Homo sapiens: one gene and its partners. The protein of the gene in region 3 purifies or fractionates together with the protein of the main gene of each other region. This does not show direct contact. Each region holds a gene or a part of one and is shown on either strand. Other genes may lie near its edges. The genes, in order: CMBL, SRSF10 and ZNF514.

The links.
Region 1: the proteins of ZNF514 (region 3) and CMBL purify together in Homo sapiens (affinity purification with mass spectrometry; one large-scale study listed by BioGRID and IntAct). This does not show direct contact.
Region 2: the proteins of ZNF514 (region 3) and SRSF10 purify together in Homo sapiens (affinity purification with mass spectrometry; one large-scale study listed by BioGRID and IntAct). This does not show direct contact.

What each region holds. Positions count from the first base shown.
Region 1 is NC_000005.10:10,277,088-10,280,640, reverse strand, and holds the end of CMBL (carboxymethylenebutenolidase homolog), read left to right. Parts: intron 1-8; coding exon 9-188; 3' UTR 189-3,046; downstream 3,047-3,553. UniProt on the Homo sapiens protein: Cysteine hydrolase. Can convert the prodrug olmesartan medoxomil into its pharmacologically active metabolite olmerstatan, an angiotensin receptor blocker, in liver and intestine. May also activate beta-lactam antibiotics faropenem medoxomil and lenampicillin.
Region 2 is NC_000001.11:23,966,973-23,970,361, reverse strand, and holds part of SRSF10 (serine/arginine-rich splicing factor 10), read left to right. Parts: 3' UTR 1-2,405; coding exon of another isoform or gene 2,406-2,436; 3' UTR 2,437-2,638; coding exon of another isoform or gene 2,639-2,699; 3' UTR 2,700-3,389. UniProt on the Homo sapiens protein: Splicing factor that in its dephosphorylated form acts as a general repressor of pre-mRNA splicing. Seems to interfere with the U1 snRNP 5'-splice recognition of SNRNP70. Required for splicing repression in M-phase cells and after heat shock.
Region 3 is NC_000002.12:95,156,998-95,161,177, reverse strand, and holds the start of ZNF514 (zinc finger protein 514), read left to right. Parts: upstream 1-1,329; 5' UTR 1,330-1,938; exon of another isoform or gene 1,939-2,194; coding exon of another isoform or gene 2,195-2,318; intron 2,319-3,738; coding exon of another isoform or gene 3,739-3,827; intron 3,828-3,833; exon of another isoform or gene 3,834-4,180. UniProt on the Homo sapiens protein: May be involved in transcriptional regulation.

The DNA of each region.
Region 1 (3,553 bases), on a different chromosome or scaffold from region 3:
CACACCAGGTATCTTTGCTGACTCAGAAGTTGAAAGAACACTGCAAAGTTGAATATCAAATTAAAACATTTTCTGGGCAGACTCATGGGTTCGTGCATCGGAAGAGAGAAGATTGCTCACCTGCAGACAAGCCCTACATTGACGAGGCCAGAAGGAATTTAATTGAGTGGCTGAACAAGTACATGTAGCAAGAATCAAGGGCAAGCCTTCCTAGAATAGCTTTCATCCCAAAATTTGCTTGGAAATAGTTAGATCATTTGATTTAATTTTCACTTTTATAAAATAAGTGTAGGAATCCTAAAATTGATTATTTCATTTGAAACACAAATTCAGTAGGACGTAATGCATGAAATAATTTAATTTTTGACATGTACATCGAATCATAATTTAAAAACAAGGTCTGACCAGGTGTAGTGCCTCATGCCTGTAATTCCAGCACTTTGGGAGGCCAAAGTGGGTGGATCACCTGAGGTCAGGAGTTTGAGACCAGCCTGGCCAACATGGTGAGACCCCATCTCTACAAAAAATACAAAAATTAGCCTGGTGTGGTGGTGCACGCCTGTAGTCCCAGCTACTTGGGAGGCTGAGGCACAAGAATCAATAGAACCCAGGAGGTGGAGACTGCAGTGAGCCAAGATTGTGCCACTACTGTACTCTAGCCTGGGCAGCAGAGTGAGACCCTGTCTCAAAAATAAATAAGTAAATAAATAAATAAATAAAATAAAAACCAGGTCAGTACCTGGAGAATTTGAATGATAGAGAATGATAGAGTAATACCCTAATTATTAGTTAAAACCTACAGGCCGGGTGCGGTGGCTCACGCCTGTAATCCCAGCACTTTGGGAGGCCGAGGTGGGTGGATCACTTGAGGTCAGGAGTTCAAGACCAGCCTGGCCAACATGGTGAAACCCCATCTCTACTAAAAATATAAAAATCAGCCGGGCATGGTGGCATGTGCCTGTAATCCCAGCTACTCAGGAGTCTGAGGAGGAGAATCACTTGAACCTGGAGGCAGAGGTTGCAGTGAGTCGAGGTTGCGCTACTGCACTCCAGCCTGGACAACAGAGGGAGACTCTGTCTCAAAAAAAAAAAAAAACCTACAGCTGTTCAAGGACCAGCTGACAGGTCAAGTGTGGCCTTTTCTGGTCTTTGAACACATCATAGAAAGTGACAAATGCTGCAAAGCCATGAAGAACATGAACTATAAACGGGTAGACTAACTGCCCAGCTTAGACACTTATCTATGCCACAAAACAGCTGAATTTGTCACATTTATATATTGCAATATGGGAAGTATTGAGATCAAAACAGGATTCCATTGACCTAATTATATTAAGCTAATAAACTAATTTTTTGAATTTTTGAATTTGCAGCTTTTTTAAAAAGATAGCAGAGAACGGTGGGCTAGAGTTGTCACCCAGCTGTTGTCTCCTAAGCAGTGGATTTCCAAGCACTGGCATTTTTGGGTCCCAGGGCCTGAGGCTACCTCAGAAATATCTCCTGTGTTTCTGGTGGTGGCGTAAAGGGGAGAGCCGGTGAGAAACTCTGCACCTGCACCTACGGGGTGCGTACATGTGACTTTGGGCAAGTGACTTGATGTTGTAGTTTTTTTCCTAATTTTGTCTTGACGTCCTTCTCAGGAGAGAGTGGCTGTAAACTCTAGCCCTGCCCTGACGGGGATCCTGGGGATGTGGTCGTGGGTGTTTCCCATGTGCCTTTCATGGGATCCTTCTTTGACCTCACAGACGGCCTGATTCCTGAGTGTCCAACCTGTGGCCAGGTGTCCCTCTCGCAGGAAGCTTGTTTATCCTGGCACATGACCTTGTGGCTCTCATCTGACCTGTGTCCAGTTTATTCCTACTGAGACAGCCACTCTCCCGGAGAGCCCTGACCGGGAAAGAAGTTAGGATGGGGTAGAGGAGGCAACTCATCAGAACCCAAGAAATGACAGAAGCAGTTTATTGCTTACAGATCCAGAGAACAGAGGGCAGCACGCTTCACAGGGCCAGCAAAAAGGGGGAGCCATTCAGGACACATGGGCTCAACCAGAAGGTGGAGAACGAGAGAGAGAGGGAGCTATGAGCCAAAGCCTTCACTGGGGCCCAGGGTGTCATCTATGCAGGTTTCCCCTGGAGGTTCTAACTGGGGGGTTTAGAGCAAGCAGGCATGAGCCCCGGGGACTCACGCTGTGACTGAGAGGGGTCGGTGTGGGTAGGATATCGGCATGGTCCATGTGGGTGTGGGGGTCAGTGGGACAAGTCAAGCAGGTGGTATCCAGCTGTCCATGGGAAGGTGGTCCCAGGAGGCGGTTTTGTAAGGCAGATGTCTGGATCGACCACCTTGGGGAACAGTGAGAAGTTGTATAACTGGAAACTGTGTTACTAATCCCTGCTTCTAGTATGAGAAAGTCCAACTTACATTCAAATAGATGCTCAGGAAACATAAAATTCAAAGAATTCCCAAACTTGAGCTTCCTGAGCCTCAGTTTTTGCATCTGTCAAATGGGTATGGGGAGACCCTTTGCCTAATGTTGAGAGAATCCAAGCCTGAGCAGGGCTGGTCTACTGTGGACACTTAGTTGTGGACCCCAACAGGCCAAAGCCCTTGCCTGCTGAGGGCTGCTCCCAGGAGGCCTCACACATTCATCCGGCCTCCCAGGAAACCCCTGAGATGTGCTGGGCTTTTGCCGTGGAACGGTGTCGGTGAGCATGTGGCCAGTAGCCAGAGTCTTCAACATAGGTGGGAGGTCTGAAATTCGTGCGAGAATGAACCAAGGGTGTGGCTGTATCCTTCATGGTGAGCTTGGGGCCTGGGCAGCCTTCCCTCTGCTGAGTCCTTTGGTCAAATGTCATGGTGTTCTGAACCAGCACTGCAGATAGAAGTATAATGTAAGTCACACACGTACTTCTTTAAAAAGATATGTTCTTCAGTGACTATTAGACAAACAGATAAATGAAGGTAAAGGGAAAAAATGGCAACTTTAGCTTTTTTCCCCATGTATGTAATTTTAAATTTTCTTATAGCCCCATTAAAAAAAGGAAAGAGACACAAGTGAAATTAATTTTAATAATGCATTTTAGCCCAATTTATCACAAATGTTCCATCAGTGTGTAATCAATGTAACGAATCATGAGTGAGATATTTTGTATTTTTTTTTTTTTGTTCCTCTATCTTTGACATCTGGTGTGTATTTTCTGCTTACACATATCTCCATTTGGATGCTAACTTTTCATCAGAAGTACTTGATTTGGCCAGGCACAGTGGCTCATGCCTGTAATCCCAGCACTTTGGGAGTCTGAGGTGGACTGATCATTTGAGGTCAGAAGTTCAAGATCAGCCTGGCCAACATGGTGAAACCCCATCTCCACTAAAAATTCAAAAATTAGCTAGGCATGGTGGTGGGCACCTGTAATCCCAGCTACTTGGGAAGCTGAGGCAGGAGAATCACTTAAACCCGGAGGTGGAGGTTGCAGTGAGCTGAGATGGTGCCATTTTACTCCAGCCTGGGCCACAGAGCAAGACCATCTCAAAAAAAAAAAAAACAAAAAAAAGT
Region 2 (3,389 bases), on a different chromosome or scaffold from region 3:
GGATGTCTAGGCCAATGATAATTATTTTTGATGCAGTGTGGATTAGTTCTTTTGTTAACCCCACTGTCTTGGGGAATGATGCCAGCTGGGAAATTGAGTTTTTGACTGAAACATGGAGCCTTCACTGCTTTTTTTCTGGTTCCTATGAAGATTTGGAACATAGAAAACACAAAAACTCACCTTAAAATTTGAGCAGGTCGTTGATGGCAAAAATAATTTTAAGGAAAAAGGAATATTCTTATGTAGTTATTCTAAAGTTTAAGGAGCGTTGTTGACCATAATATTGCTTAGTTTTCTTACTGCTGTTAAGTAAGTAAATTGTTTCAAAGTAGGTTTTGTGTGTGTGTGCCTAGTGTAAAAGAACTGAAATTTTGATGCTTACAGCACTTGGCTCGTGCATTTGTATCAAAATTTGCCTGCCTCTTTATGAGGGAGGCCTGCTTTTCACACCTCAGTTTATTTAATACGAGGCAAGTTGTAAGACAACACTCATTCTAGGTGATTCTGTGGTGCCATGAAATTTAAGGTAATTTGGGGAAAAGGATTAGTCAGTTTTAAGCAAGAGTCACATCTTTTGAGCTTTCGATTATCAGTGTAGTACCTGACTAAAAATGAAGTAATACCCTTAAACCATTTATAATTTCTAGTATTTCTCTGAAAGATCGTTTTGGGGACAAAAGTGACTTGACATGTCCAATTTCATTTCAGAATAAAAAGCTAGCATCTTTAAAAATCTCAGATTGCTTGCTTACAGATACAAGTACGAATTATGGACAAACGATTCCTTTTAGAGGATTACTTTTTTCAATTTCGGTTTTAGTAATCTAGGCTTTGCCTGTAAAGAATACAACGATGGATTTTAAATACTGTTTGTGGAATGTGTTTAAAGGATTGATTCTAGAACCTTTGTATATTTGATAGTATTTCTAACTTTCATTTCTTTACTGTTTGCAGTTAATGTTCATGTTCTGCTATGCAATCGTTTATATGCACGTTTCTTTAATTTTTTTAGATTTTCCTGGATGTATAGTTTAAACAACAAAAAGTCTATTTAAAACTGTAGCAGTAGTTTACAGTTCTAGCAAAGAGGAAAGTTGTGGGGTTAAACTTTGTATTTTCTTTCTTATAGAGGCTTCTAAAAAGGTATTTTTATATGTTCTTTTTAACAAATATTGTGTACAACCTTTAAAACATCAATGTTTGGATCAAAACAAGACCCAGCTTATTTTCTGCTTGCTGTAAATTAAGCAAACATGCTATAATAAAAACAAAATGAAGGAAATAATGATTAACTGGAATTATTACAGTATTGAATATGATTCTAAAATAACAATGGAAACAGTCCTTTATAGATTTAGGAATATTTTAAATCATTGTTGCACTAGGCACAACTAACTTTTACTTTGGAAATGATAGAACTTGCCAGAAAGGTACATCTTTTACACAGTAGTTAAAAATTCATTGTGTAATATCAAAGTTGTTTCATGATTGCTCATTAAGCCTCTTGGGTTAACTAACTTAAGAGGTTATTTGGTAGTGTTAAGATGAAATTTGGATCAGCTAATTCCAAGTTTATATTTTCATTATTGGATGGATCAGTAATTCTGCTCTCCCTCTTATAAACAAGACGCATTAGGGCTTAACGTTTATGACATGATTTTAAATCATTTTAAATTGAATGTTGATGAGCAACTAATATTAAGTGATAACCTCTTTGGGGAAGTAGGTTAGGTATTTTGTGGTTTGAATTCTATCTACTTTATGACAATTATAGCTAATTTATTAAGTATTCATGATGTGCCAGACACTTGAAAAGGCTATGTGTTAACTCACTCTTCACAAAACCTTATGAGAAAGATACTTTTATTTTCCCCATATCACAGATAAGGAAACTGAGGCACAAAGAAAAGACTGTAAGGCAGAGCCAGGATTTAAGCCCAGGCCTGGTCCCTTAGTTTTGGGGGGGTTTTGTTTGTTTTACAGACTATAATTTGAGAGAAGTAGATTGAGGAGATAGCTCATTGAAATTGTTCATTTTCTGTATAGAACTAGAAGGCCTAATTTCATTTTTATTTTTACTTGTGTCAACTTATTTTTAGACTTGGACTATTGAGAATCTTATATGTTGTTCCTAAAGCGACACACCTAACAGCTTCAAAAGGACTATATTACAGTTGAACCCATGGTAGTTTGGATCCTACTGATACTTGATGAGGATCTTTACGTAGTGTTTTATGTTAGTTTTGGGTGATGTAGTTGAGTCCCCCACTTACTGAGTTTACCTACTGTGTATGACTGGGCTCAATGATAAATAGAATGGTTATATCAACACTCAAATGAGGGCTGACACACTTCACCTCTCCTTTTACTTAAGATCTCTCTGCATTTTTTTTTTTTTTTTGAAGCCAAGTAAGCAAGAAGAAAAATGAGAGATAATGCTTCAGTGAGAGAGGAAAGGTGCTACATAGAGTATGAGCTGTTAAGTTACATCCCAGGGGAAAGACCTGGGAACTATTGTATTATTCTCTTGAAAATTTGGCCCAGTAAGCTGCTACATCCAGTTCAACTAACAAAATCCTGTATACCACAGAGAAGAATAAAGGAAACCAAACTGACAAACATCCTTCTTTTATTTAAGACCAAACTGCAGCTGGAATACCCAGTACAGTTCTGCTTACTACACTTCAAGAAAGATCTGAAAGCGGAAAAAGAACCAAAGAAGGGCAGTTCAAGCGACCAAAGGGTGGGTGGAAGGTGCTGCAGTATGAATACTGTACGAATATTTTGACTCTGGTCTGAAAAGATAAAAGAATGTTATCGAAAACTACATGGAATAATTGAAGTCCCTTCAAGTTTGAAAGTAAGCATTTTAGGACAAATAAAAGGAAATTCAACTTTGTACTTGTGGAAACTAATCCCTAAATATGAATAGGTTTATATTGATTCATGGGTAACAGGTCCATAATAAATTATTGGAAACTAGGATGTCTGAATATCAAGGAAGACAGCCATAGTCTCTTACAGTGCCTCTGTTGGTCTGTCTCAAACTGAATTGGGTGGGAAAAGGTATGGTCCAATATAAAAGTTCCATTTTTGCCATTATTGGCAAATCTTGCCTTTGTTTATTTTGGTGCCAGTGTTTTCTGCTTAATCATTTGCTTTGTTGGCATCTGTGTTTATTTACTTGTACACCACATGCAGTTTACATCTGTCTTAACTACTCCTTCCCAGGTAAATTCCAATTATATTTGACATCCAGCTAAGAGGGCCCATCTCTTCTCACCTCTTTCCTAGTCAGTATATTCAGCAAATATTTATTGAGCCCTTACTGTGGGCAAATCATTGTACTGGATAATTGAGAAAAATAGATAATTCCCTTATTCAGTAAA
Region 3 (4,180 bases):
AATTTGTTGTTCACAGTTCTGGATGCTGGGAAATGCAATATCAACGTGCCAGCCAGTTCAGGGGCTGGTGAGGGTACGTTTCTCATAGATGGCACCTTCTGTGTCCTCACATGGCAGGAGGAGCAAAGGGGGCTTAAGGCCCGTTTTTATTTTTATTTATTTATTTAATTTATTTTTTGAGACGGAGTCTTGCTCTGTCGCCCAGGCTGGAGTGCAGTGGCACGATCTTGGCTCACAACCTCTGCCTCCCGGGTTCAAGCAATTCTCCTGTCTCAGCCTCCTGAGTAGCTAGGATTACAGGCGTGCACCACCACGCCCAGCTAATTTTTAAATATATTTTTGGTAGAGACAGGGTTTCACCATGTTGGCCAGGCTGGTCTCAAACTTCTGACCTCAAGTGATCCGCCCGCCTTGGCCTCCCAAAGTGCTGGGATTACAGATGTGAGCCACCACGACCGGTCTAAGGGCTGTTTTTAAAGGGCACTAATCTCATTCATGAGGGCAGAGTCTTCCAAAGGCTCCACTTCTTAATACTATCACCTTGGGAGTTAGGTTTCAACATATGAATTTGAGGGGGACACATACATTCAGACCATAGCAGGCCGTTTTTCCATTTCTTTTGGGTCCTAAATGATATTTGTTTCTGGAGTAGGAGGGCGTTCAAAGTCCTCTTTTGTTCTTCAGCACCCTTCGCTGAATTCAGGGGCAGATGGAGAAAGGCAAGAGGCACGGGGCAGCCTGTAGAAGCAGTATCTAGCACTGAGTCCCCAGTATCCCCTAGGCACGCCAGGAGAGCCTCCTGGAAATCCTCACTCAGCAGATCCAGGGTAGGAACGCGGCTTCTGTTGAATAGCCTTACATCGAGATATGCAGGTTGGGGGCGGTGGCTCACACCTGTAATCACAGCACTTTGGGAGGCTGAGGCGGGAGGATCATCTGAGGTCAGAATTCGAGACCAGCGTGGCTAACATAGTGAAACCCCGTCTCCACTAAAAATACAACAAATTAGCTGGGCGTGGTGGCGGGAACCTGTAATCCCAGCTCCTACGGAGGCTGAGACACGAGAATTACTTGTACCCAGAAGACAGGTTGCGGTGAGCCGAGAGCGCGCCCCTGCACTCCCACCTGGGCGACAGAGTGAGGCTGTCTCCCCCCTCCCCCCAAAAAACGAGAGAGATATGAGGCTCAGCTACCAAAGTCACGCGCGAGAAGGGAAATGCTTGTAGGTCCCTGCCCTTGGGGGAGAGCGGAGTGAAAACCGGCGCGTGGCCGGCGAGCACGGCCCCTCCCAGCGGAGGTCCTACAGGCGCCCGCGAGCCCCGCCTCTCCAGCTTCGCCGCGCCAGCACCCCGCCACCGGCGCTGGCTCTGAAGGGCCCCGGCGGCGGCCGCGTCTGCGCAAGCTCGGGACGGCCTCGGGAGGCGGGGCTGGCGCGGGGCGGACGCGGGGGCTGGCGCGGGGCGGACGCGGGGGCTGGCGCGGGGCGGACGCGGGGGCTGGCGCGGGGTGGCGGGCGGGGGCTGGCGCGGGGTGGCGGGCGGGGGCTGGCGCGGGGTGGCGGGCGGGGGCTGGCGCGGGGTGGCGGGCGGGGCCTGGTCCTGTGAGCGTTCGGAGACTGCGGGCGCGCAGACCTGTACTGGGCCCGCGCCCCGGCCCCTTACAGAGCTGGGTGTGTCCCTCCGAGTGCCCCCCGCTAGGGACTGTGCAGGCCGGAGCTAGGCAGGGACAGCGGGGCGAACCGGGCTGATAGAGTCGGTCCCTGCTCCTGTGAGGCTCTCACCGAATCCCTGCTGTTTCCGGGCAGCTGAAGAGCGCTGGGCCCTCGCGTCGCGGGCGTGGCTGTGGCCGTGTCTCCTGGTAGTCTGAGCCCACTGTGCGTGTGGATCCACGTGGGAGCTGGGTTCCAGAGCCTGGTCCTGAGGAGGAGCCGAGCCGGGGGTAGGAGGCCGGACTTGGCGAGGGAAGAGCACGACCCCGGGCAGCAGTGCGCCGCGCTGGGCGCACCGGGGTTTGCCGGCCCTGCTCTGGGCCCTGCAGGTCCGCTGGCCCCGCCGCGCCTAGTGGGGATGCCCCGTGTCCCCCAGGCAGCCCCAGCCTGCGTCCCGCTCCCTGAACCCTCGGGAGGACCACAGGGCTGTGGCCGAAAGACAGAGATTTGGACCTAGTGAAAGGACGCCGCTCCTTAGCCCCAGCTATGGACTCCACAGCATCAGGTTTGGCTCTGGAGCGTGCAGAGGGCCAGGAGCCCTCTTGGGGAGCTAGTACCGAGCCCGATATCAGGAGGACCCCAGGAAGAGGCCGGGGAATCCCACTGAAGGGTGAGGCTGTACTTCATCTGCCTTCCGTGTGGCGACATCTAACCTTCCAGACCCAGAAGGCTGAAGCCGCAGTCTCCTGGGTCTGGCAGGGGTCTCTAGATGACCGTGGCGGAGGTGGAGGGGATGGCCATGGAAAATTGTCCCAATGGCCAGAGGAGAGCAGAAGAGGATCTGATCTCTTCCTGCTGCGGCAGGGAGAGGGCAAGCAAACCCAAGAGGGAGTGGCCCTTGGCCAGGGATCAGAGGACGATAGGGCCATTTGGAGCCTTGTCATCCACCTCCTTAATCACCTCACTAATAAGGTTCTTCCAGTCGTTCTAGCTCAGCGGTGTATAAGGTCAGCAGTGTACATGGTGGGTATCTCCTCTGAGCCCCTTCCCCCAATAGCGTTGGGGGCAGGGCAATCCAGGTGACCCAGGAGGTTTTAAGCCAGTCCTAAGTTTAGAACGTCCTATCTCTAACCAGGTGGGCATTTTAATCCGACTGTTCATCCTTCAGTGCACATGCTCAAGGACACATAACTGGCCAGTGGAAGAACTGGGCCCAGTCCGTGGGCTTCCCACCCCCTCTTTTTTCCTTTATACCCTTGTTAATCAGTGTGGCTCTGGGAACAGCAGAGGCATTGCCCAGAAGTTCTCTAGAATTGCAGACTCTGGGGCCCCACACATCCTCAAACAGTGTCTTAGCAAGTCTTGAGCCAGAGTTTAACAAGATCCTCAGGGATCCACACACACATGAAGCTTGAGGAATGCCTAACTGTGCTATGCTTACACCCATGTTGTTAGCCTTAACTACTTCTCTGGCATGGTTTGGGTTAGTTTTTTTGTTTGTTTTAAGGCTTTTATGAACAGTATGATGCAAAGCTTTATAATGAAGGAGCTCTCAAGTGTGTTGCAGAGACCTAACAGAGCTTGGGAACACCAGGGGCAGCTTCTCAGAAAGAGGTGGCCTCTGAGCTGGGTTCCCAAGGATGAGGGGAGAGGTGTAACTTCCTCCCCTTAAAGCCTCATAATCCTGCATGGCCTTGCCTTGGGTCTTGTGTAATTGTTAACCTGTAGGCTAGATTTAAAGTTCCTTGAAGTTCTTTTCCATATTTATATTTCCAAAAGTCCTAGGAGATGACCTGCATACAGTATGCCCAGTAAATAACTTCAGTGGTATGGCCAGACTGGTCACACTTCACTCACTTGTAGACTGATGTGGGCTGTGGACAGGTGGGAGCCTCATGCAGCTGTGTACAGGGGCACTTCTCTCAATGTTTGAAGGCTAGAAGCTGCCTCTCAGATCCTTTTGATCCACTGGTGTCCTCAGAACAACGGAGGTGACATTCAGAGCTGTTCTGGGTCTCAGGCTTGGGAAGTCTGAGAGCTGTGTGTGCTGGCTGGGTCAGCTTCCCTTATGTCTCCTTCTACCTTCCCAGCTTCCCCTTCTCAGAATCCTGCTCTTCCTCCAGAGAGATTCCCAGGAGAAGAGGGAACAACCAATTCATTCCTGAAAGCCAGGCCTCGGGTGAGTTGTATTCTTAATTTTTCCTCAAATGCCTGAACGATGGTTAGCTTTGCCTACTTTTCACCAAAAAGTAGCCTCTTTTTTCACTAAGGGAACTGACCCAATGCTGTCTCTGCAGGAGGCTGAGCCCATCCAAGTGAATGATGGCTCCCTGACCTGTCCGGGGTGTTCTCTTCTTGCTGTGCACCCACTCAGATCGTTTGGGCTTACTCTGACATATTTCTAGAAAGGGCACTGTGGTGACCACCAGGTAATGTGACAGCCCTGGCCTTGAAAGAGTGTCACAGCCACAGTGGAAGAGGACCCTGACACCCAGGACGCAGCCACCAGTAACAGGATGTGAATGGTTTGAT